2 separate regions of the Homo sapiens genome follow, and region 1 is linked to region 2. Evidence: fine-mapped expression QTL. A gene starts in region 2. The other region holds a variant in brackets. All regions are shown on one strand. Distances are from middle to middle.

Region 1 (12,412 bases), 88 kb before region 2:
AGAAACAAAAGGCTTTGTCTTATTTGTGCTAACTTTATGCACAAATGAGTGACAACATCAGTGGCTTAGGTCTGTGACCTAAGGTCTTTTTTTTTCATTTGATGTGGTCTCGCTCTGTCACCCAGGCTGGAGTGCAGTAGCACAATCTCAGCTCACTGCAGCCTCAATCTCCCAAGACCAAGCAATCCTCCCACCTGAGCCTCCCAAGGAGCTGGGACCACAGACATGTGCCATCACGCCTGGCTAATATTTTAAAATTTTTTTGTAGAGACAGGATCTTGCTACATTGCCCAGCTGATCTGGAACTGCAGGGCTCAAGCAATCCTCCTGCCTCAGCTTCCCAAAGCGCTGGGACTACAGACGTGAGCCACTGAGACCGGCCTTAAGATCTTTTATAAGCTGAAATTCTCGGATCAATGGGTAGAAGGAATGTCATCTGCAATAATGATTTATGCCAGCAGAGGGGGACAAAACTTACAGTAAACACAATTTACAAAAATGAAACAAAAGGCAAAAGCTGACTTCCTGTTTTCTGATTAAAGAGCTCCTGTTACAGGAGTACACCACTCCACCACTTCAGCAGTTCATGAGCATAACAGCCCCTCAGCCTTTTGCAAATGACAAACCCAAACCTGTTGTTCCACTGCATGCCCATTATTATTTATTTAAATAAATGTATTTATTATGATTTATTTAAGTAAATGTATTTATTATGATTTTTTTTTGAGATGGAGTCTCACTCTGTTGCCCAGGCTGGAATACAATGGTATGATGTCGGCTTACTGCAACCTCCACCTCCTGGGTTCAAGCAATTCTCCTGCCTCAGCCTCCCAACTAGCTGGGACTACAGGCGTGCACCACCACGTCTGGCTAACTTTTATGTACATATTTTTTTATTACAGATGGGGTTTCACCATGTTGGCCAGGCTGGTCTCAAACTCCTGACCTTAGGTTATCCGCCTGCTTCAGCCTCCCAAAGTGCTGGCATTACAGGCATGAGCCACCACGCCTGGCCTATTTATTATTAAATATTTATTTAAAGTAAATTTATTAAGCACTTGTGTAAATTATTTAAATTAATTATTAAATATTTATTTACATAAAATAAATTCATCATTAGATGTTTCTTTAAACACATGTATTTAAAACGTATTTAAATAAAATGCGTTTATTTTCTCATCTGTGACCCATGGACTAGCACCCTGAGTTTCAACTGGTCTACCCAAACCCCGGGGAGCAGACACACAGTTTTCTAGGAGCAGGCAGCCCTTTTACAGGGATCATTCCAGATGCACACCTCTGTACAAGTCCTCCCTACACTAGTGATTTTCCTGAGAGCTGTCCAGCATGTGCCTGTGGTCCGGGCAGCATGCTGGCTCCCCCTCCCACCTTCCCTTTCCCAAGTCCTCCCACTTTACAGAAGAGAGGCCCGCCTGTCATCCATGCAGCAGCTTCCTGCGGTGCTCTGCCCAGAGATGTAGAAACCTCGGGAACATCAAATAAAATCACAATTCAAAATGCTGGTCTTGGTCAATCAAGGCACAATAAATTTGTGGTATGGTTTGCTTTCTCTCTTAAAGAACTGAGAGAGAAATACAGCCATGAAATAGGACAATTCGTTCCACGTTGGGAAACTGTGAACTTAGATATTCTGTAGAGGAGGTGGCAGCAGCAGCAGCAGCAGCAGTGAGGTTTTTATTTCATAGCTTCCCCTCGACCATCTCCCAGCCATTGAAGAACAGTTCACTCCCGCAGAAGAATACAAGGAGAACAGGGAAGAGGACGGCAGTGAGAAATGCCAAGGGCATTGTCTCATTTCATCCAGGGGACAAACTCATGGCAGGGCTCTGTGCTTTATCTGTCTATGTGACAACTGTAATCTTCAAGATCTGTTCAGCAGCATGTGGGAAACCCAAGGTGCCACAATGCATATGCTTTCCGTGAGCTCACCATCCTCAGGAATGAAAGCCTGGCAGGCACCCTTGTCCACGGGGACTCAGTTGGGGTCTTAACAACATATTTTGTATTAAAAGGAAAAAGGGGTGAAAAGGTCCATGTTTACTTCCGAAAGATCAAAATTACAACTTCAAAAGAACAAATAAGGGAGAGCTGAGTTAATACTGTATACTTTCCCGCACAATTACTCAGACTTGCAGGATACTTTCGTTCACTTCTTTCAAATGATTGATTACTGGATACTGCACATCTGTGTCCAGGTTGCTTGAATGCAAGTCACTTGTTCACTGGTCCATGACCCCTTTCTCTGCTGGTTTATTTGTTGTCCCTGTGTACTTACTGGATTTAGATCAACTACACAGCAACACGTTTGGATTCTACCATAATGTACTTAACAGCAATCATCTATGTGTCTTTTCTAAACCCCACACTTACTAGTCGAATATTTTTTCCTTTTGTTGTAAATTTCCACAAAGATTCAACTGCTCTCTTGAAAGCAAATCATTGATGTATGTATGGGCAGATGAAAAATTAGGCAGGCTAAGAGGTAACCCTCCTGCACATTAAAAAATCCATTCTGTGTGATTAAGATGATTCCTTTCTCAGACTTTGACATGCGGTCCTAATTTATGAAATATATAATTATAAATATTATTTTCATCTTGAAATGAAATACTAATCCATCTATATAATTCTCAAATGTCCATCTGTCAAGCCTTTTTCAGATGCCTGAGAAAATTGATATTGGATGCCACTTATTCACAGCTGATGATAAAAATCCTAACAGGAGCGATTTCCAATTTTATGGGGTTGCTTTTACCCCAGCAGCACTTCATTTAACTACATACAAGGTGCCTCTAAGCGAAAGAAAACAGATATACTAAACAGTCATTTAATCATCACCTCCATCATTTAATAAACCTTGCTGAAATCCTTTTTGGTATACTTCCCATTAAGAAAGTGAATGCCTCTAATGACTGGGCAACTGTTTTGTTTTGTTTTTAACAAATTAGGTGGTTTGCTTTACCAAAACTGGAAAAGGAGCTACAGATGGCCTCCCCTAAGTGGAGGTCTCCAAAGTCAACAACGTAAAAATACAAACAGTATTGCCTCTATAGGGCGGTCTACGTAGCCCAAGCCTAGGCACCTAAATGTCTTCCCTCACGTACACTCAGGGCCCATGTAGGAAAGAAACATGACAGTATTCATGAAAATGCTTCATAAATGCCAAAGTACCCTACAAATGATGCTGACAGCATTATTATTACTGTTGATTGATGAAACATCGAGCAGTTAATATACAGCTAAGAATTCTAAGGCATCAGAGTTATAAATAAGAATTTAGATACAATATTTTGTTAAGTCAACAACAAGATGCGACACAGGGTCCCTCAAGAAATAGCTGATGACCAGATGAATTTCAAAACGCTCAACTGAAGTACCAAACTGACTGGTTTTTTTCTGGGTAACCAAGAAAACGGCACGTGTCATAAATGAAATATACAAGTCCTCTTGGCTTACTGTTGATTCTGACCAAAGTCTTTAAATACATCCATTAGATCCTTGCACTTCTCACAAACTGAGTGAGTCATCACCTTCTATACCAATAGAAATTTGGCAACCAGTCTGTGCGTATTATGCACAAAACAAAAGCCATCTACACACAGAAGGAAAACCTAGAGGGAACACTGCCCCTCCTCCCTTAGATAATTACCTTCTTTTGTCTCATCTCTACTTGCCAGATCACTTTTTCTAGTTTCTCCACTTCTTTTAAAATAGAACCTAGAGTTCAGTCTGGCTGGTATACAATGTCTCCAGCTCCCTCCCACATGCAGCATAGGTTTAATCAGTATTTTATAAAAGAAGAATCAAGATTAATGAGAGTGTTCAATATTCATATTAGGACCGAGTTATTTCTGAAGAAGGATGGCTCTTTTGTTCTTTCTCTCTTTAACATATCACAGAGGGAACAGGCCACAGTGTCTGTGCCCCACCGGAATACGTCACCAACAAGCCCAGGAGACTGACTGGTGGGCAGGTCAGCCAAGTAATGAGAGAGACGCCTGATGAATGTGAACACGTGGGCCATAAATACAGTACAGCCCAGGTGGCACAAAACGCAGTGAAGCCCACAGTATTCGGGTTAGCCTGAGCCCCTGGGAAGGAGTTGAGATGACAATAGAAACACAGAGCAAATCCCAAAAGTGTCTGAACAAAAATTTGCCATCATGTAGCGAGTGCCATTGAAAGCATTTATTACCTGATTGATGTCATTTGTGAAACGTCACCACAACCACCATGCTGCTTCCATTTAGGAAGTGGAGACAAGGCAAAGTTATTGCCATCTGTTTGTCTTCAGTGCAGCCCCACACGGGCACTCCCGTAACCCTGTGGTCCCGGAGTTTGGGAGAGCAGGGCTCCCAGATTCTCCCACCCACAGGTGACACCCGGCACGGTCAGCCAGCTGTGGGTGAACTGAGACCACCTACACGTTAGGTGTGACAGGCGACCTTTGCAGAGAATCAAACAGCAACCATAGGGAATGAGCTGACCTTGGCTGAGATGGAACGATATGCTCACAGAGCCTCTTTTCAATTCACTGTCCATACTGCCTCCCAAAGGGATCGTTCCAAAAGCAAATGTGTTCAAGCTGCTCTCCCTGCTGAAAACCTTTCAATGCTTGCCCACTGCTTACAGCATAATTTGCAATCCCTTCTATGTCCTGAAAACCCCCCAGGGCCTGGCTCTCTGCCACCTGGCTTTCGGCTGTGCCCTTTTTTATGACCTTTGCTCTAGCTTCCTGAGCTGCCCTCCGCTCCCCCACTGGGCCCGCCTTCATCTCCACCGTGAAGCTTCAGCCCTGGTGTCACCTCCTTGAAGAAGGTAGAAGTACCCCACCACTGCAAATGGGGTGCCCCCCTCCTCTGTGTTCTCCAGACATCCTTATACTCCTGGATGTCTGCTTTCGGATGGCTCGTCCTTCTCCCTTGCTAAAGCCCTGGAATGCAGAGATCGCGTGCTATTTGTGTTGGTAACTGAGCCGGATCTGG[T/C]GTGGCTCACAGCAAATGCTCAATGTTTGGTGAGTGACACCCAGTGCCTGAGGCAGCTCCAGCCGGTTGCCCAAAGTGCTGCCCTTTAGAAGCAACCAAGGGCAGTCAGGAGCTCTGGTCTGACACCAGTAACGAGGTGTGGACTATCCCCCATCAGAAGGAATAAGTTTCCATGAGGCCAGTGGCATCCAGCCAATGCCATTCATGATGAAGAGGATCCGGGCTGGAGTTTTTTAGGCAACAGTAACAAATGATGACTTGAGTCTACAGATAGAGAATACAGATAAAAGAAAGCATGGGGTTTTCTTCTTTATTACTGAAAATAAGCAAAGGCTGTGCCTCAAAACAAGACAGAATGGCCTCTCCCTCCTATCATATTTCAAAATTAATCTACTCCCAGACAATCTGAAGAGGTTTCCTTCTCGTTACGAGGGGAAGGGGGGTGCAGATTTTAGGTCAGCAGATTTATTGTTTCCAGATGTTTGCAGCTCTGGGATTTGCTGAAGGATTTCCGAGAGTATGGTGAGGCGCATCAGGAGGTGGGGAGAGCAGAACGGAGAGAGAGACAACAGCCACATGAGCAGGAGACAGAGCTCTTGAAGTCATAGGGGAGGGTGACATCTCTGCACATTACCCTGAGGACGAGGCTAGAGGCCCTTTGCTATGGCCACATGACCTTAAAAGAAACACGTATGAACTAAAGACATTTGTTTTTAAACTAAATGAAGAGATCATTTTCCCATTTTAAACACACGACAAAATCTATAGGGTGGGTTCCTGTGCCAGCAAAACACGACTGAGCTTCTGCAACACTGGCAAGGCTTTGCCCTCCTAACAGTGTCAGAAGACAGTTATTCTTTTGGGGAATCCTCCCTGCAGGACCTTTTCTGTAAACCTGTTGTCAGGATGTATGGGCAGGTCTTTGCAGCCCTGAAGGAAAAAGAGCAGCTCTAAGGGCTGGAAGTTCCATCTGAAACTCTGTCCATTTGATTTACAGCCACATCTGGGACTTGAAAATGTTTAGGAAGTAAAAGTGAGAGAAGGAGAAAGCTTGGGGAATATTCCATTTTGACCCCAAGAGACGCTGTGCTCTGATAATTTACTGAAGTTACAGATAATAGATGGACTTCCATGGCAGTGTATACGTTAGGAAATGTGGCCCATAAAAGACCTAAATACATAACCGTCTACACTGGTTAACTCCCTCTGTAACAACACTCTTCAACAGAACAAAAACATTTCCAAACCTATTGTTGATCTTATTACAGTGAAATTCACACTATGAATCATTTAGTATACCCAGCACTTTTTTTCCAGGTTTCCCCATGCCATTCACCAGTATAACAAGAACAACAAAAGAACCTTAGCAGACTGTGTAAATAATAAACAAAGATAGGCAACAAACATAACATTAATGTATAAAATGCTTTTCATGTACTTGATAGCCATAAGCTTGCAATTTAATAAATACTTTGCATTTTTTTGTTAATTCATATGAAAAGACAAATACTCTTTCTTTGCTTTTACAAAAGTAAAATAAATTTTAAAGTAATGCATATTTTTTTTCCATTCGACAGGTCTAGGTTTGTAATATGCAGAATTTTTCATACCCAAGACAACCAAAATAAAGTTTAAAAATAAATAGGGCAATCTTTTATTCTTTGTTTTTTGACTTTTGCTTGTTTTTATCAAGCTTTTAAAGCAGGATGAGTCCTCCAAATCTGGGAGACCCACGGAAAGTGCATGTTAATCCAGCAGACTGTTAGTAACAGTGGACTGACTACCACGTTCCACTCCCTTGGTAAACACGCTGACTGATACTTATGCTGTACTAGTGAGTGCTCCTCTAGGCCTGGCATGTTTTTGCTCACACCAGGTGAGCTCAATGTTGACCAAAAGTCAATGTCTTTGCTCTGAAACCTGATGTGACCCTCGAATACTATGGAAACTGTTGAAACATACGTTGGAAAAGAAAATTGCTATTTCTATAAACACTTAAGTTGAATGCTTTGGAAAGACATAGGAAAGAGGGGTTACTTAAAAAATCTGCTGTCAAATTAGGTGTGAGTGAATTAACTCAAAAGTCTGCAAAATTAGGAGATAGGGAGTGGGGGGAGGTATTAAAAAAATCGAGAGAACTTTGCATTCAGGTAGCTTTGCTCTTCTCTAAGATAGGGAGTGGGGGGAGGTATTAAAAATCGAGAGAACTTTGCATTCAGGTAGCTTTGCTCTTCTCTAAAGAAACCCAAACTGGAACCTGAAACTGACACGTCATGGGTGTTGTTTATTGTAAGAAAGACCAAACACAATTCCTCTCAGTAGACCAACACTCAAAACAAAACAAGACTTGGGATATGTTGAAGGATTGGCAAATAAATGTCCATTCATATATTTTAAGTTAAAATGTTCAAGGTATGTATTGTTCGTTTTTAATGATCAAGGTGGGTAAGTGGGCTTCCAAATAGGGTGAACAGAAAATAAAGCAACTGACCAATGGAGTTGTACACAAAATAGATAAACAGATCTGAGAAAGTCTGCCTTGGCTCCTATCCTCTGAAAATATCCAGGGATAAAATAAATCAGAATTCGGCCTGGTGCGGTGGCTCATGCCTGTAATCCCAGCACTTCGGGAGGCCAAGGCAGGCAGATCTTTTGAGGCCAGGAGTTCGAGACCAGCCTCGCCAACATGGCAAAACCCTGTCTCTACTAAAAATACAAACACTGGCCAGGTGTGGTGGCACACGCCTGTAATCTCAGCTATTCGGAGACCGAGGCAGGAGAATCGCTTGAACCCAGGAGGCGGAGGCTGCAGTGAGCCAAGCTCACGCCACTGCACTCCAGCCTGGGTGACAGAGCCAGACTCTGTCTCAAAAAATACAAAATAAAATCATAGTAGAACCCGGAGGGCATGTCATGGCTAGGCTTTTATACAGTTTCACATTCTTGGACTGTATTTACTACCACAGAAGGAGGGTTTCAGGAAGCAGAAACAAAGGCAAAGTGATACCACTATTAAAGCCAGAAGATTTCCATAATAGCCCTCCCTCTTCCTCATCTTTCAGTATCAAGAGCCCAAACTCATCCTATCCCTGCCCCACAAAACTGCTTATAGGAACACTGGGGGAAGAGGCTGCCCGTTACCTTCTGACGCTGCTGAATGTTGGCCACAGTGTCAGGCTGAAAGTCTAGCTTGTCTGTGCGGCATAGTTTCCAGTAGAGGATGACAACAATCACCATCACCACCAGCACTGGGATGACCACGCCAACAATGACCCACAAGTTGTTGCTCTGGGATTCCGGAGACGGCCTCTTCACCCTGTCGACAGCTGCAGACAAGGAAGAAAGGTCTTTCAATAATTCCTTCTTCACTCATGCACTAGATTGCACGTGTCTTCTATGAGAAACTCAGAAGTCCCTGACATTCCAGCTCAAGATAGCTGGTTCCAGGTTCTAATCTCCTGATGACAGGAAATGTGACCAGCAGAGAAACACAACATACAATGTTACATCTAGAATACATCAGGGATCACAACGACATATGGATATATCCAAAGGTACATGGCTGAATTAATGGCAAAGCTCAGTTAATTCCAGGTCTCCTGATTTCCAGTTTATTCTACTAGCTCACCCGTAACTTATCACTGCAGGATATTTCCACACCAAAACTGGTTCTGCACAACTTTGTACAAAGGCAGTTCTCTTCAAAAGTGGAGAGAAAAACAGCTGTGTCTCCAGAACATAATCCTGCCCGCTCCATCAAGTACCGCAGGACTCACACCCTCCTAGATCACATAAAGCACATGCATCTCAACTAGGAGTTTATGGAAGAAAACCCTTCATCTCTTTCTCCCTTCCCTCACTACTCCAAGTTTCTCATGTTCACAAATGTTTATTAAGTGTGCTGGACACAGTTTGTAAGCTGGGACTCAACCATGAACAAGCGAAATCCCTTGAGGTGCTTAAGTCCTAGTGGGGGAAAGGAGAAATGATCAAGTAAATGAATCACCGAATAATTTCATATTGCACTAGTGCCAAACACAAAGCAAAACAGAGTAAGGAGATACGACATGTGCACCAGTGCAACTGGTCGTTTCCCCTTCAGCAATGAAAAATGACAAAGAGATGCTGATGTTCGTAGCAGCGCTATTCACGACAGCCTAAAAGATGAAAAGAACTCAAATGCCCATCCACAGATGAATGAATGAACAAAATGTAGTATAGCCATACAATGGAATATCATTCAGCTTTAAAAGGGAAGGAAATTCTATACATGCTGCTGCACAGATGAACCTTGAAAACATCATGATAATGGAACAAGCCAGTCACAAAAGGACAAAATGTATGATTCTACCTACATGAGGTATCTAGAAAAAAACTCATAGAAAGCTTCTGCTTGGAATGATGAAGAAATTCTGGAAATGGATAGTGGTGATGGTTACACAGCCTTGTGAACGTACTGAATGCCACTGAAGTATACATTTAAAAGTGTTAAATTGGTACATTTCTTGATGTATATTTTACTGCAATAAAAAAAGAAGGAAGATGATCCTTATGTTTTCCAAAATGAAGCTTCACTGTGTTAATTTGGAAACTGAAGTCCTAATAAGCGTCCCATAGGCACTGCCTTCATTGCCCCACCTGTGTCTCTCCCTAAACCTTTGAAACATGACTCATCGAAACGGCATTATTTAAGCTACCAGTTGTCCACTTTTACACGAAGCATATCTTACTCATTTTGGATCCACCACTCCCCACCCTGCTGCCACACCCACCCCACCCGGCCCCCACTTCTCTTTCACGGCATAGGACAGTTGCACTTCAACTCCTCGGCCACTTCATGTCCTTCACTAGCTCTTTGTTTTGCACATGGTGCCTTACTGCTCATTTAAAATGCTTCCTGTTATATAAATGGATAATCCGTGAAGTGCTACGCTTCTGCACTCATTCATCCGGTCTTGACGCCAAATCTTGTCTTTTCAAAAACATCTTAGTTTTCATGGGCAGGGACTAAGTCTTATGCTCCTTTCATACCCTATGATGGTTAACACCTGCTATGGGATCAAAAGGTATCTGCTCAAAGACGTAATAACAAAAAGGGTTCTTGGTGCTGGTTTAACTTTGGGTTTAGACACCTAAGGGAGTGGCAAGGGAGGGAGCAAGCATTCTAAATCAAATGCACCAGGGAAAAAAGCACAGATTAGAGCACAGGCTGCATGGGATGTGGTAAAAAGCAACAAAGTGAAAAACTTGTGTTTTTTAATTTGGGCTGAATATAGTTAATATATGTAGCTCATTTTGCATAAAAGCAACGGACAATATAGAAGTACGGACAGAATCAAACTGAGAAGCTGAGACAACTGGACACTCTTCTTAGTTCTTTTGTGGGTGTGGTTGTTTTTTTTTTTTCTTTTTGAGATAGGGTCTCACTCTATCACTCAGGCTAGAATGTGGTGGCACAATCAAGCTCACTTGCAGCCGCGACCTCCTGGGCTCAGGTGATCCTCCTGCCTCAGACCCCCCAAGTAACTGGGACCACAGGCATGCCCCACCATGCCCAGCTAGCTTATTATTATTATTATTTGTAGAGATGGGGTCTTGCTATGTTTCCCAGGCTGGTCTTGAACTCCTGAGCTCAACTGATCCTCCTGCCTCTATCTCCCAAAGTGCTGAGATTACAGGTGTGAGCCACCACACCTGCCCTCTTCTTACTCTAACCTAGGAAAACCCTGATGAGGCAGAGGTTGATCAAACTGGACCCTGACACCAGTGTCCTGGGGCTGCCTTTGGGCTATCCCTGGTGTTGGCTGAGGCTTCCTTCAATCGCCATCCCTGAGATCCCAGGATCTTTACCCACGTGGTTTTCGGTACAAAACTGAGGAAAAGAGGTGCAAGATCACATCTGAAAGGTGCCCATATTCTATTGCAATTAGCTGTTTAAAATGTCAAGTGCTTGGCTGGAGTAGGGCACGTCTCCTACAATCAGGAATCGCATATATGAAGAACTGTAACGAAGTGCTTTTGCTATTTTTTGCTCACTGCTTTGGAGGAGAACACATCAATATGTGATCATATCTCACATACACAAACACAAATTGCCAATGGTTATTTGCTTAAACCCTCCCATCATCTTCCATAAAATAGAGAAATTATGCCCATCAGCTCTCATCTTGGTTGGTCTCCAGGGACAAGTACAGATTTCATAAAAACCTTCTACTATCAAGGATAATTTAAAAGCTATCATTTTTTAAAAATTGTCTTTATCTCCTACATGTTCTCCATAAAGATTTTTCTGTATTCTCTGATGCTGAATTCCCTCTAAACATTTACCTCTCCTTTTATTGCTGGGAGCAAGTTTCACCATTCTCTTACCAAGACTGCTTGCAGGATCACAAAGGAAAAACACTGACATTAAAAGAGGTGTGGTGGCTCATGGTTGGGATTCCAACACCTTGGGAGGTCAAGGTGGGAGGATTGCTTGAGCCAGGGGTTCAAGACCAGCCTAGGCAACATGGCAAGACCCTGTCTCTACAGATAATAAGAAAAAATCGCTGGGTGTAGTGGTGGTGACTGTGGTCCTAGCTACTCAGGAGGCTGAGGCAGGAGGATCACCTGAGCCCAGGAGTTTGAGGCTGCAGTGAGCTACGATCAAGCCACTGCACTCCAGCCTGGGTGACAGAGCAAGACCCTTTCTCAAAAAAAAAAAAAAAAAAAAAAAAAAAAAAAGAGGAATCTGATTCACACCGTAAAGGACTATTTAGAAAAATACACTCTTCCATGTGCCTCCTTTTTCTTCAATTTTAAATACTCAAAATCTGTGAGGTGGGGCCGGGTGCAGTGGCTCACACCTGCAGTAATCCCAGCACTTTGGGAGGCCAAGGCAGGCAGATCACAAGGTCAAGAGATCGAGACCATCCGGGCCAACATGGTGAAACCCCGTCTCCACTAATAATACAAAAATTAGCTGGGCATGGTGGTGTGCTCCTGTAGTCCCAGCTACTTGGGAGGCTGAGGCAGGAGAATCACTTGAACCCGGGAGGCAGAGGTTGCAGTGAGCCGAGATCACACCACTGCACTCCAGCCTGGTGACAGAGTGAGACTCCATCTCAAAAAAAAAAAAAAAAAAGCAAACAAATCTGTGAGGTGGAAAGGAAACTACTGACAGCAGCCAGGGCCAGGCAGGCAGGAGTGAAACCTTCCAACAATAATAAAGAAACTTCAAAATACCTCTGTCTACACTGTGGAGTGACGTGAGGATAGGTGGGAGAGAAACAGGACTGAAAAGGGGAAGGATCAAGGACTTCTCTGTGTTAAAAGACCCTGAAGGAAACCAATAAATTCAGGGTGCACCTCCCAGCTTCCTGCATGACTCACTGTCCCCGCCAATGTTCAAAATATGACACAGAAGA
Region 2 (12,412 bases):
CAACACAGTTAACAGCAGTGGAGCACGAGCACTGACAGTCGGAAAGGGAGCTATTCTAATTTTACAGGTAAAGGATCTGAACAGACATTTCTCAAAAGAGACACACAAATGGTCAACAGGTAAAGAAAAATTGCTCAGCATCCCTAATCATTAGGGAAATGCAAATTAAAACCACAATGAGATAGCACCTCAAACCTGCCAGAATGGTCTTCAGCCAAAAAACTAAAGCAGAGTCCTTGAGGCACCTGCTGTGCTGAGCATTAACCCTTCAGTCACTGGATCTCGGTGAGGTGGAGGGTGGCGGTGGTCCTTGGGAGAAGAGTCCTGAAAGAGGGCAGGGAGGCTCAGGGTACTTGGGGGTGGGGAGCAAGGAATATTCAGTACAGCAGCTATTTACCAACTGCTATGGTAGTATCTCAGTGGTTTGGTTTTGTTTTTTGAGACAGAGTCTCATTTTGTTGCCCAGACTGCAGTGCAGTGGCGCGATCTCAGCTCACCGCAACCTTTGCCTCCCGGGTTCAAGCCTCAGCCTCCTGAGTAGCTGGGATTACAGGCACCCACTACCATGCCTGGCTATTTTTTTGTGTTTTTAGTAGAGACGAGGTTTCACTATGTTGGCCAGGCTGGTCTCGAACTCCTGGCCTCAGGTGACCCACCTGCCTCAGCCTCCCAAAGTGCTGGGATTATAAGCGTGAGCCACCACATCCAGACTGTATCTCAGTGTTTTTACAACCAGTCAAATGCTCGCAATGAATGAAAACAGCAGGTCTAGGGGACAATTCTAATCTAGTTGCCTGGTCAAATAAAATATGGTTCTTGCACACTATTTACACAGACTCAGTCCCAAAAGCAGGTGTCTCTCAAGGTCTCTGGAGATTTACATAGCTCCAGAGTTAGTCCAGGCTGACTTAGCCTTCAATGTTCCAACAATACCTATTCCCAGAAGGCTAGAACAGAAGGCACTTTACCTCTTAGCCCAGTGCTTCCCAAACCTCAATTGTGCATGCAAAATCACCAGGGGGATCTTGTCAAATGCAGATTCTGATTCAGAAGGTCGGGGGTGGGCCCTGAGATTCTGCATTTTCTAACAAGCTACGAGGCAGTGGAGGCAGTGATGATGCGAGCTAAGAGGCAGTGATGATGCTCAGAGTGTGGGGACCACAAGATTAGAATTTCACTAATGAGAAGTAATTGCCTGAAGCTAACAAAGGAGATGGAAAAAAGAAAGAGACAAAGAGAAAGAATAAGAGAAAGCAAAGTATGGGTCTTGAGTGTGTGGATGCAAGAGGGAAGAATAAAGGGAGTTTTTAAAAAGAAGAGCCATCTGCAATGGTGAGAGTGAGCTGCCTTCAGCAGGTCATGGGCCTAGAACATCTACCAGGCAAGGAGAAATGACAAAACAACCTAACAGAAAAAGGACAGATGCTGCTTATAAGTGCATTCCAAGACATCCAAGATGTTGACTTGATATGTAGGAGCTACAGGGAGAAATGAGCTACAAGGAGCTAGAGGGTTAATGAGATTAGCGCTAATCTCATTAACCCTTTCTTACACCGAGGAGGAAACCCAGGACAAGGTAACTTGTCCATAGTCACAAAGTTACAGGCAGATTTGCATTTGCACACACCCAGGTTTTTTAACTCACCTTTTAACAAATCCTGCTGCCTAACAACAAGAAAAAGAAATCACATCATTGTGAGCTCCAGATGAAAGGTGGGTGGTCACAACTTGAAAACAAATTAGATCAGTTAGAACAGTGTCTTCCTATCTGGGAAAATCAACCTAGTGTAATTATAATGACGGTAATTAGCTGCCTCTATCATTCAGGGCACTGATAGAAAACCTGTGGCTCCCACGTCCCTAGTGACTTGTAACAACTCCCTGGCTGGGTTCTGTTTTCAGAATTAAGTGAGGCACTTCCTGACAAGCACTGCAGCAGCTGTTCCCAAACGGGCAGGAGTGAGCATTGAAAATGCAGTCCTCTGCACCCTTTCACTCCCAACCCAAACAAAACCAAGCAAAAACATGTAACAAAAAATGCTTATTTTATTTTACCTTATCTTATTTTATCTTATTTTATTTTGAGATGGAGTCTTGCTCTGTCACCCAGGCTGGAGTGCAGTGGCGCGATCTCATTTCATTGCAACCTCTGCCTCCCGGGTTCAAGCAATTCTCCTGCCTCACCCTCCCAAGTAGCTGGGATTACAGGCACCTGCCACCACACCCGGCTAATTTCTGTATTTTTAGTAGAGACCGGGTTTCACCATGTTGGCCAGGCTGGTCTCCAACTCCTGACCTCAGGTGATCCCAAAGTGTTGGGATTACAGGCGTGAGTCACCGCGCCCGGCCTCAACATAACGATTTTAAATTAGCTGTTCTAACAGTGAAAAGACAACTGCAAGATACCAATGGTATACAGTAGTCCCCCTCCTCCAAGGTTTCGGATACCGGAGGACAACTGCAGTTTGAAGATATTTTGAGATATTCTGAGGTATTTTGAGATACAGCATATTCACGTTTTATTACAGTAGACTGTTAGAACTGTTCTGTTTTGTTATTATTGTTAATCTCTTACTGTGCCTCATTTTTTAATTAAACTTTATTGCAGGTATGTACATATAGGAAAAAACCATGGTATATACAGACTTCAGTACTACCCAAAGTTTCAGGCATCCACTGGGGGTCTTGGACCACATCCCTTGCAGATAAGGAGGGACTACTATATCTTCAAAATACTGTTAATTTTCAGTTACTGGGTTTACCATATCCGGATCAGTGGTTCCAATGCTCAGGGGCTAAAACGGAGCTGTCAACTTGTTAAAATGAAGATTCCCAGGCACTGCCACCAAAGAGTCTAATTTAGAGGCTAAGGGTGAGTCGTAGACATCTAAATTCTTAACAAGCACCCCCACATCCCCAAATGATGTTGATGCAGGAGGCCTAGGGGCCACACTTTTGAAACATTTAAGTATTTGTTTATAATATCCTAAACGACTCACAAAGCATAAATATTCACCTAGAAATGGCCAATAATAAAACAGCACATTAAGAAAAAAATTTCACACACCATAAGCATAAATGCAATAAAAAAATTATTAAAAGAACAAATGGCAGATCTTGCTAATCAAAACAACCAAAAACTTCTACATTTCAAAATTATGTAAAATTTAAAAGAAATTCCTTTGGAAGGGGAAAACGCAACATATAGAAGGAAAAATGGTTGCTATCCTTCTAATACATAAAGATTTAAATACATATCTATGCCACAACAGGTAAATAAATAAAAATACAGAGAAAATTCACAGAATACAAATACAAAATAAAAAATATTCAATTCTAAAGCAATAAAACCGTGCAGGTTAAAACAATGTATTACAAATTTATTTAACAAGGGCTTTTAAAGTAACATTCAATGCCAGTGATGAAGTGAATACTCAATGCAAGTGATAATGGAAGGCCCCTGCGTAAGCTTCAAGGGCTTATGTCAGCATTATAACTTTCAAAAATTGCTTCATTCAAAAATCACATACTGAGTACCTACTAGGGGCCCAGCATTTTGAACAAAAGATGCAGAAATCCAGCCTGGTGGGCCTTACATTTTAATCACACTCTAATACCCCTTCCACAAATGTATACTCAAGAAAACACACACACACACACACACACACACACACGGAAAGAAACATGCACAAAGCCTTTTTTTTTTGAGACGGAGTCTTGCTCTGTCGTCCAGGCTGGAGTACAATGGCGCCATCTCGGCTCACTGCAACCTCTGCCTCCCTGGTTCGAGCAATTCTCCTGCCTCAGCCTCCCAAGTAGCTGGGATTACAGGCACATGCCACCACACCCAGCTAATCTCTGTATTTTTAGTAGAGACGGGGTTTCACCATGTTGGCCAGGATGGTCTCAAACTCCTGACCTCAGGTGATCCGCCCACCTCGGCTTCCCAAAGTGCTGGGATTACAGGCGTGAGCCAGCGCGCATGGCCAGCAGAGCCTTCTCTATGTAGCTATTCATCAGCATTACTTACAGCAACCCAAAAAATGGAAATAAAAGAATAAATCATTAGGATAGAAAATAGTTTTCAAATAAGACTTAATGAATGGAAAAATGCTTAAGTTAAATGTAGAGTGGAAATGGTAGTAAATACAATTGTGCATATAATTCTTTTTTTAATGTTAACAACAAAAAAACGATAAAATTACTTAGTGTTACCTACAGGCTGTGAGATTATGGGTGACTGGTTTCTGTACCTTTCAGTAATTTCCAAATTCCCTACAAAGCAATCTATTTCATAATAACTATTACTTTTTAAAAACTTATCTCTGAATAAGGTGAAGAAACTGGGCATGATTCTTTGTTTTTATACTGTGGATGGCTAATCACTTAAGAGCAATGCATTCAAAAGTAAGTCCAAAGCATTACAAGTTGTTTCCACAACAGTCAATGGTTAAGACCAAACTTGTAAATTTTTTTTTTAAAAAAACACACTCAAAATGCTGAATGAAATACAAATAGACAAGAAATCGATTTAACATAGAGATTTAACCAAAGACTGTAATAAGGGGACCACCTGGAAGGTGGACTCTATTGAACAAAAGTTAACAAGAGAAGCCAGCTGAAGGAGGAGATAGCTTTCAGACAGCCACGGAAGGGAATGCTGCCTCACATAGGAAGTCCAAAACAGGTCTAAGCCATGCCATTTTCTGACTACCACTGCTTATTCCTTAGAAAGAGAACCAACCACCACAGCAGTGTTCAGCAAAGCTCTCCTACATTCCAAATCTCCTGGTGAAAATACCACACTCAGGACTGGGAGGGCAGCCCAAGCAACTGCAACGCACCCTCTTCCCAGGATCAACAGCACCGCCCAGGCACCCTACACACACCCTAGCTACATCAGGAAGCCACCCTCCACCAAGATCGTTCCTCACAGTCTTCAAGTAGATGGGGTCACCTCCAGCAGGTCATCCATAAGGAATCCTGCCTTTCCTGTCCGGGAATGGTCTGTGCAAGGGTTTGTACTTCCTTCACTGCTCTGTGTTTCCAGCTGGATCCTGGAGCACAGGGGCTGTGCCCTCCACTTCTTAGTTCCTAGTCTATGAGCCTGGCAGCGGCTGAAGCCAATATACAAACCAGTGAAAGGATGAAGTCTCTTTCCATGATGTCAGGTCTAGAATGGAAATATTATTAATTTCATGTCTCCAGGTTGAATATTTGTATTGGGGGTAGAGGGGAAGCAGGAAAGGACTTCCAAAGAAGAGAAGGTTAGGGATGGGCAGTGCAAACAGCTTCACTATTTATTTTAAAGTTACCAGAAGCACTTATATTCTCCACAACCTCTGCAGTACACCCAGATGGCCACATTCATATGGGGAAGCCATCAGGCACAGAAAGGAAGCATGTCATAGAGTCTGAAGCCAAACCAACCTAAACTCAAAGCCTTAGTTTCCTCATCTGTAAAATGGGGATAACTATGCCTAACTCACAACGTGATTGGATCGTGTATATAAAATTCAACATCTGGCACACAAAAAGCACTCAGGAGATGGAAACCATTTATCTGCTGTGTCTTATGACAGATGAATCCACGAGTATCAGATGGGCTCTCTTTGTTGACTAAAGCCAAGAGACCCTTGACAATGATCTCTTCTCCTCTGGACACACAGGGCTGGAACTCGCAGGAGCAGGACTGAGACGGGAGGTCCTAGGTTAGAGTAAGGTGTTTGCACTAGCTGTATACTGCCTAAAAGAGACTCATTCTGTCACCCCAACCCTGGTTCCACCCAGCTATGGGAAATCTCTGCAGAGGCTTCAGGTGTGGATATGTCTATGGGCCAAGAGCGGGGGTGGGAGGCAGGGAAAGTGATGACTGTGACCTTGAGCAAGGCACTTCTCTGCCTTAGTTTCCTCTTTGGTAAGCAGAGTGGACCTGTTCCATGATCCCTGAAGTCCTCCCTGTGCTTCTATTGTACCATCCCCTCTAGGGCACTGGTTATAATTCTCACAGGTCCAAGGGACACCTTCAAATGTGTTCCAATTCCTCCCAGCCACTGAGTAGCCCTTTGGCCCTGCTCCCACGAGAAAGGAGGATTCGGAGCAGCGTTCACGGCTTTCTGGTTTTTGTTCTGTGTGCAGCAGCTCTCCACCCCTAGCTGCTCCTTCCACCTTTCCTTTTCCGCCTCAAAGTGGTCAAGTGCCTGTGCAGGGGCAATCGCTGGCCTGCAGTGTCAGCTCAGAGACGGTTTCCAGACCATCCTGTGTACAGGCTCAGGGTGGACAAATAAACATTTTGGAGAAGCAATAGGAATTAAATCATTTCTTCCACAACAAAACCCTTATGCTTCTTCATAAATCATGCCTCTTCATTCCATACTGATGAACAGTCACTAAATTGCATCTGTTATAAAAACAGCCCTTACTCCTTTCATGCCCAGACACTTAAGAATCAAAATATTTTCACACTCCATTGTACTAATAATGCCTTGCAGAAGTAATACCAATAGCTATTTCCCTGGAAAGATCCGTGGCCAGGGCGCTTTCCAAGAGGTTTTCTTTGAATGTTCTTTGTGTCCTGCTGTACGGGGGGACACGGCCGGCCTGCCCGCATCTGGGGGACGCTGGGCTTGTCCCGGTAATGCAATACTCTTTTAAAGCACACCTCGAATCCACCTCTTCGCCCCGACAATAAAGTATCTCAAAACATTCGATATGCCACATCATACAGCCTTGACAAAAAAGCACGCCGGTGCCTGCATTCTGCAGGAAAAACCAGGCACATTCTGAGATGAAGCCACCAGACCCGCTTCGGGTTCCATGGACAAGAGAACAGCTTTGCAGACCCCTTAGCAAGACCGGCCAGAAGCCGCTCGCTTGTTCGTTTTAATTATTTATTTCCCCCGTGCCTTTATTTGTTGGGCCCCAGAAGAATGGCAAAGCATCTTCCAGAAAGGACGGCGAGGGAGCTGGAGAATAAAAGAGGATGGGCGGGGAAAGCCGGGGTTTTGAAAACAGCAGCGATAAAGGCAGGCGGGGTCGCGGCCGCGTTCCGAGGGTCTCGGCGGAGCTTACCTGGGGCGCACGAGGCCGGCCGGGCCAGCAGCAGCAGCCAGAGGCCAGGAAGCAGCAGCCCCGGGCGGCGGCGGCGGGCGCAGCGGGCGGAAGGCCGTCGGCCGCTCGGCCCCGGGGCCAGCGCGACCCCGGCGCGGGGCTTCCCCTCCATGGCCGCGCCTCGGCGTCGGCGCCGCGCCCCCGGCATTCCCGGCCGGCGCCCCGGCCCGGCCTCGCGGCTCAGCGGCTCTCGGGTCCGGGAGGGGCGGCCGCTGCGGCTGCGGCTGGGACGGGGCGCCGCGCACCGGCGCGGAGGGAGGCCGGAGAGGCGGGGGCGGGCCGGGCCGGAACCGAGGACAGGGGCGCCAGCCGCACGCCCGCCTTGCCGCTCCGCCCCCTTCGGAGCCTCGGAGCCGCTGCCCGGCAACGCGCGGGCCCGGGCGCGGGACGGCGAGCACCCCCTCCCGGCCGGCCGGACGCCTGCCTGCCTGCCTGCCTGCCTGCCTGCGGGGCGGCCGGGGCAGCGTGCGCGGGGCTCGGCGCGGCAGAGGCGGCAAGGGCGGCGAGGCGGCGCGGCCCAGCCCTCCCCCAGGACCCGCCTTCCGGAGGGAGCGCGAGGGGCTCGGGGGGCCTGGGCCGGGCGGTGCCGCCCCGACCCGCACCCAACCCCGGGTCCCGCCGCGCGTTCCCCGGGGCGCCCGGATCAGGGTAGGCCGGCAAGCCGGGGGAGGGGTCCTCTCGCCTCCCTCGCTCCTCCTCTCCCGCCGACTCCTTGCGGGCAGCAGGTGTGTGGGGCGCCGCGCTCTCAGGACAGCCTCGGGGCCGCGGAGGGGACAAAGCCAGACAAAGTCGGGCTCCTGCGCTAGAGCTCAGCGTGCAAGGCAGGGGCGAGCAGAGCGCACGCAGCTCTCCCCCGCCTTCCTGCCTTAAGAAGGTGCGGCCACCTCTGCGGGTCTTCGGGAAGCGACCCTGCGCTCAGGGCCTGGGAGGCCCGCGGGACCCTGCACTTAGCAGGCCTTGAGCAGGCGGCTGCTGAAGCGAATGGGCGTGGAGCTGGGGAGACCCGCAAGGCCAGGCCGTTTTAGGGAAAGTGGCGCTCCTGAGAGGTGGAGAGAATGCCCAGAGAGCGTTTGAGGGTTGGAGTCCGCGGGGGGAATGAGGAACGGGAAGAAGGGAGTTGACATCTGTCAAGTACCTACTGTGTGCCAGGCACGTCACTCTGAAGACGCCCCGTGGCTTCAGGGTCTAGGGAGGAGGAATTGGAAGTTTTGAATCGTTGCATCCCACTGGCATTGTTGCATCAAGCAGATATTAACGGTGTGTGTGGGGGACACTATCTCGTGCAGAAAAACTATGGCAGACAGCGGAAAAGGTGAATCATTACACTGGCAGAGGGATCCTCGCGGCTATTCAGTCGGGTTCCCCTGCCAGGCCCAGCCCTTGAAGGGGCTGCCCAGCCTTGCAGCTCCAACTCTTCTGGACTCCTTGCCCTTGGCGAATAGTTCTTCCTAAGAATAGGACAGGGGCACTCTTCTGTAGGTACACACCTGGTCCTTACAGGTGGGTACTTGAAACCTGGTAGTTTCAAGGAAAATGAGAATAAAGGTTAAAAAAAGCTTTTGTTGATGTTCCTGGTGTTTTTACACGTTATTGTAACCCCCCATCATACAGCCCCTATGTTTATTACAGTAACTGCTCCTGTCTCCCAAAGAGGGTTCTGCGTGCACACCCAGGTAAGTACCTAAGAGAAACTGCCCAGATATGTCTGGTCCCAGGACACCATGGCCATAGATCTGGGACCTCTTATTCACACACTTATCTTTATTCTCTGAACTCTCTATAACAGCACATTTGACCACAAACCACTGCCTTCGTGCAACTCTTGAATGGTCTTGTCCTGTTGTGTTGTTTTATCTTTTATGAATTTATGCTTTGCACACACAGCCCCCACCCCACCTCCAATAAATTAATATGAAATTCAAATATGGTGCTATCCTGCTTAGGATTTCTCATAGCCCCAGTAAGCCCTCAGTAGACAATCGTTGGTTTGAGCCAGAGCATGCATTCCGCCCGTGAAGAGGTTCCATCTTCAGATTTGGCCTCAGCCTCCTGCAAGCTGCCATCTACACTAGACCCGTTGGTGTCAGAGAAAAAAGCCTCCCTCGGCCATGCGCGGTGGCTCACGCCTATAATCCCAGCACTTTGGGAGGCCAAGGCAGGCAGATCACCTGAGGTCAGGAGTTCAAGACCAGCCTGGCCAACATGGCAAACCCCGTCTCTAATAAAAACACAGAAAAATTTACCCAGGCATGGTGGCACGTGCTTGTAATCCCAGCTACTCAGGAGGCTGAGGCAGGAGGATCACTTGAACCCAGGAGGCGGAGGTTACAGTAAACCAAGATCACGCCACTGCACTCCAGCCTGGGTGCCACAGCAAGACTCCATCTCAAAAAAAAAAAAAAAAAAAAAAGGAAAAGAAAAAAGAAAGGAGTCTCCTTCTCCATTCTCTGCAAACTCAAAGACAATAGTGTTTGCCCTGCCATTAAGAGATTGATCAGCTGGAAGTAAAAATAAAAATTGGAACCCTGAGATACTAGAAATGACTCATGGACACCAAAGTGTCCGTGGAAAGTGAGGTCCCTAGGGTCCCTTAGTCTCCCAGCTCTGAAGGCATAAAACAAAATCTTACCTCTGTTAGGATTTAAGGCATTCTGCCTCCATGTCTGGGAAAATGTCTACCAGGCTCTGACAGTCCAGCTGGTAGGTGGTGTTACTCTGCAGACTCAGAGGGGATGAGTGGTCCTTGGAGGTAGGGGAGTGTGTGCAAATGTGTGTGTGTGTGTAAGATTTTAAAATCGATTTTAGAGATCATCTCATCCAATTCTCATAGATAAAGAAACAAGCCAGAGAGGTTAGTTTATTTCCATAAGGCTCAACTCCAACTGGAATTGTCGTCTCCAGTTAAACCACACACCCTCCAGGGGAGGGGGAAAATTAACCTGGGTCCTCGATAGGCTTACAATCTGGTTTGGAGACAGGGAGAGGTAGGCTCAGTACTATCCTTAGACCTAGACGAAGCGGGCCCCACTCTGGCCTTCTCAAACTGCACCTCTCTCCTCAGGACAGAGTCTGTGAAGCCCAGGAAGCACCCTCACCAGCAGCCCATCTTCCCATGCTCAGGTGCCCAGGACCCCAGAATCCTGCCCATTTCACCCCAGGCTCATCTTCAGGCCTATGTGGCCTCTTCCTCAAGTCCATTCTCCCAAGGCTGCACCAAGGGTGTGTCTGGTCCCACGGGGTAGTTGTTTGCTAGGGAGTGGCAAAACTTACGCAGGAGGCATCTCTAAAGATGCGCACATGAAACCTATAGGAATGAAGCAGAGGACCAGGGATGGGAAGAGAAGATCGGGCATGGCCCATATTCACATGGCAACCTGGCTGCGATGTTCTGCTCACAACTGCAGGAAGTCTGCGAATCCTGCCTGTGAACCAGCCTAACCATTCTGAAGACATACGTTTGTTAAGGTAGAACAGACATATTTAATAGTTTGCTTGCTTGGCATGTAACTTGCTGATGAAAATCTGGTCATCGATGTGAAATGGCCAAAATGGCCAAATGTGAAATGGGCTGCGTGAGCCCCTATTTGCACTCTTGACCTGGGCCCCTCAATTCTTAGGGTCTGGATAAGGATGGGACAGAGGGACTGAAGTTAGAGGATGGCTGGAAGTCGGTAGAGGGTAGTGTGAGAGTCCTAGAATAGGAATCAGGACAGCTGAGTTCTGCGTTCTGCTCTGTCACAGAAAAGTTTATGAACTTGAACAAAATGCTTCACCCTACTCTCAAACCTCAAATGTTCTTATCTGATGATGGGCTTCACATGCCTACCTTGCTTAGCTGTGGGTTCGGTTCTTAAGAGAATTATACAAAATAAGATGAATGTTCACAAAGGTCATTCATTAAATTCAATGAATATTTTTTGAGCATGTACCATATGCCAGGCAGTGCAGTGGGCACTGGAGGTATAACGGTGAACAAAACAAAGGCCCTTCCTCGTGGAACTTATGTTCTAGTGAGAGGAGACAGGCAATCAGTAAGTGAGCCTTCGGCTGATGACAACAATTTGCAGAATAACAAAGAGGGAAAAGGAGTGAGGGAAGGGTCAGTGTTACTGTGTTAAATAGAATAGTCAGGGATGATCACCCTACTAAGGTGACATTGGGCCATGGGGATAGCTGGGGAAGAGGGTGTCAGGCAGAGGGAACAACTGTGCAAAGTGGAGAAGTAGCCAGAATAAACATTCAAAAAATATTTACTGAGTCCCTACTAAGTAAGCGCCCCGTAGAGTCATGTGCTAAATGATCAGTAAGATTAATTAGGCCGGGCACAGTGGCTCACGTCTGTAATTCTAGCACTTTGGGAGGCTGAGGCAGGTGGATTGCTTGAGCCCAGGAGTTTGAGACCAGCCTGGGCGACATGGTGAGACTCCCATCTCTATGAAGAAATCCAAAACATTAGCTAGGCATGGTGGCGTGCACCTGTAGTCCCAGCCACCCGAGAGGCTGAGGTGGGAGGATCACCTGAGCCTGAGGAGGTCAAGGCTGCAGTGAGCCGTGATCATGCCAGTGCACTTCAGCCTGGGCAACAGAGCTAGACCCTGCCTCAAAAAAAAAAAAAATAATAATTGTCTACAGTTTTTTCAAGGAGCTTACAGTCTTACGGGAAAAAAAAAAACAAATTTTAAAAACCTACATATTGCAAAGTAGAACATGACAGATGTCCGAAGGAAGTTATAAAAAAAAGTTCAAAGAAGTAGAAATCATATTTGGCACAAGAGATCAAGCAAAGCTTCAGTGTAGTGTTGCATGGAAGCTGGGTGTTAGGGGGCGCCTAAAAAATGAAGAGGACTTGGACAGCTAAAGAGAACAGGACAGGTGTTCCAGGTGGAGGGAACCAACAGTACAAAAATATAAAGGCAGGAATGCATGAAATTTATCTAGCTGATGGCCAGATCAGCTAGAGCAGTGGTTCACAATGCTGACTGCAAATTAAAATCACCTGGACACCACAAACAAAACAAAACAGAACACCCCCAGGCCACACTTCAGACCAGTAAAATCCAAATCTCTGCAGACCAGGCTTGGACAGCCCTGTCTTTTAAAAGCTTCCCAGGATTCCAGTGTGTAAGAACCATTGAGCTAGATGTCTAAGAGTGAGACTTTATAATCACTTACTGAAAGTGGTAAGACATACCAGACCTAGAGAGGCGCAGCAGAGAAGAGAGAAAAGGGAAGCTGATATAGAACAAGGAGAGCTTAAAGATCTGGCTGAAGGGTTTGGACTTAATTTTGTAGGTGACGGTGG

The links. PIP is the estimated chance that this variant, and not a neighbour inherited with it, causes the effect.
Region 1: its variant is fine-mapped to the expression of KIAA1549 in fibroblasts (GTEx, PIP 0.93).

The regions. Positions count from the first base shown.
Region 1 is chr7:138,886,195-138,898,606 of GRCh38, forward strand. KIAA1549 reads right to left here. Exons shown (of 20, transcript NM_001164665.2): 10 at 8,148-8,332. Among named protein-coding and RNA genes, the nearest start is that of KIAA1549, 89 kb to the right of the region's middle. The variant T/C (reference allele first, on the strand shown) is at 5,007.
Region 2 is chr7:138,974,012-138,986,423 of GRCh38, forward strand. KIAA1549 reads right to left here and starts at 7,378. Exons shown (of 20, transcript NM_001164665.2): 1 at 7,072-7,378. The coding sequence starts at 7,258. RefSeq lists enhancers at 55-555, 556-1,056, 6,297-7,183, 7,806-8,155 and silencers at 5,992-6,286, 7,126-7,255, 7,296-7,675, 7,696-7,825.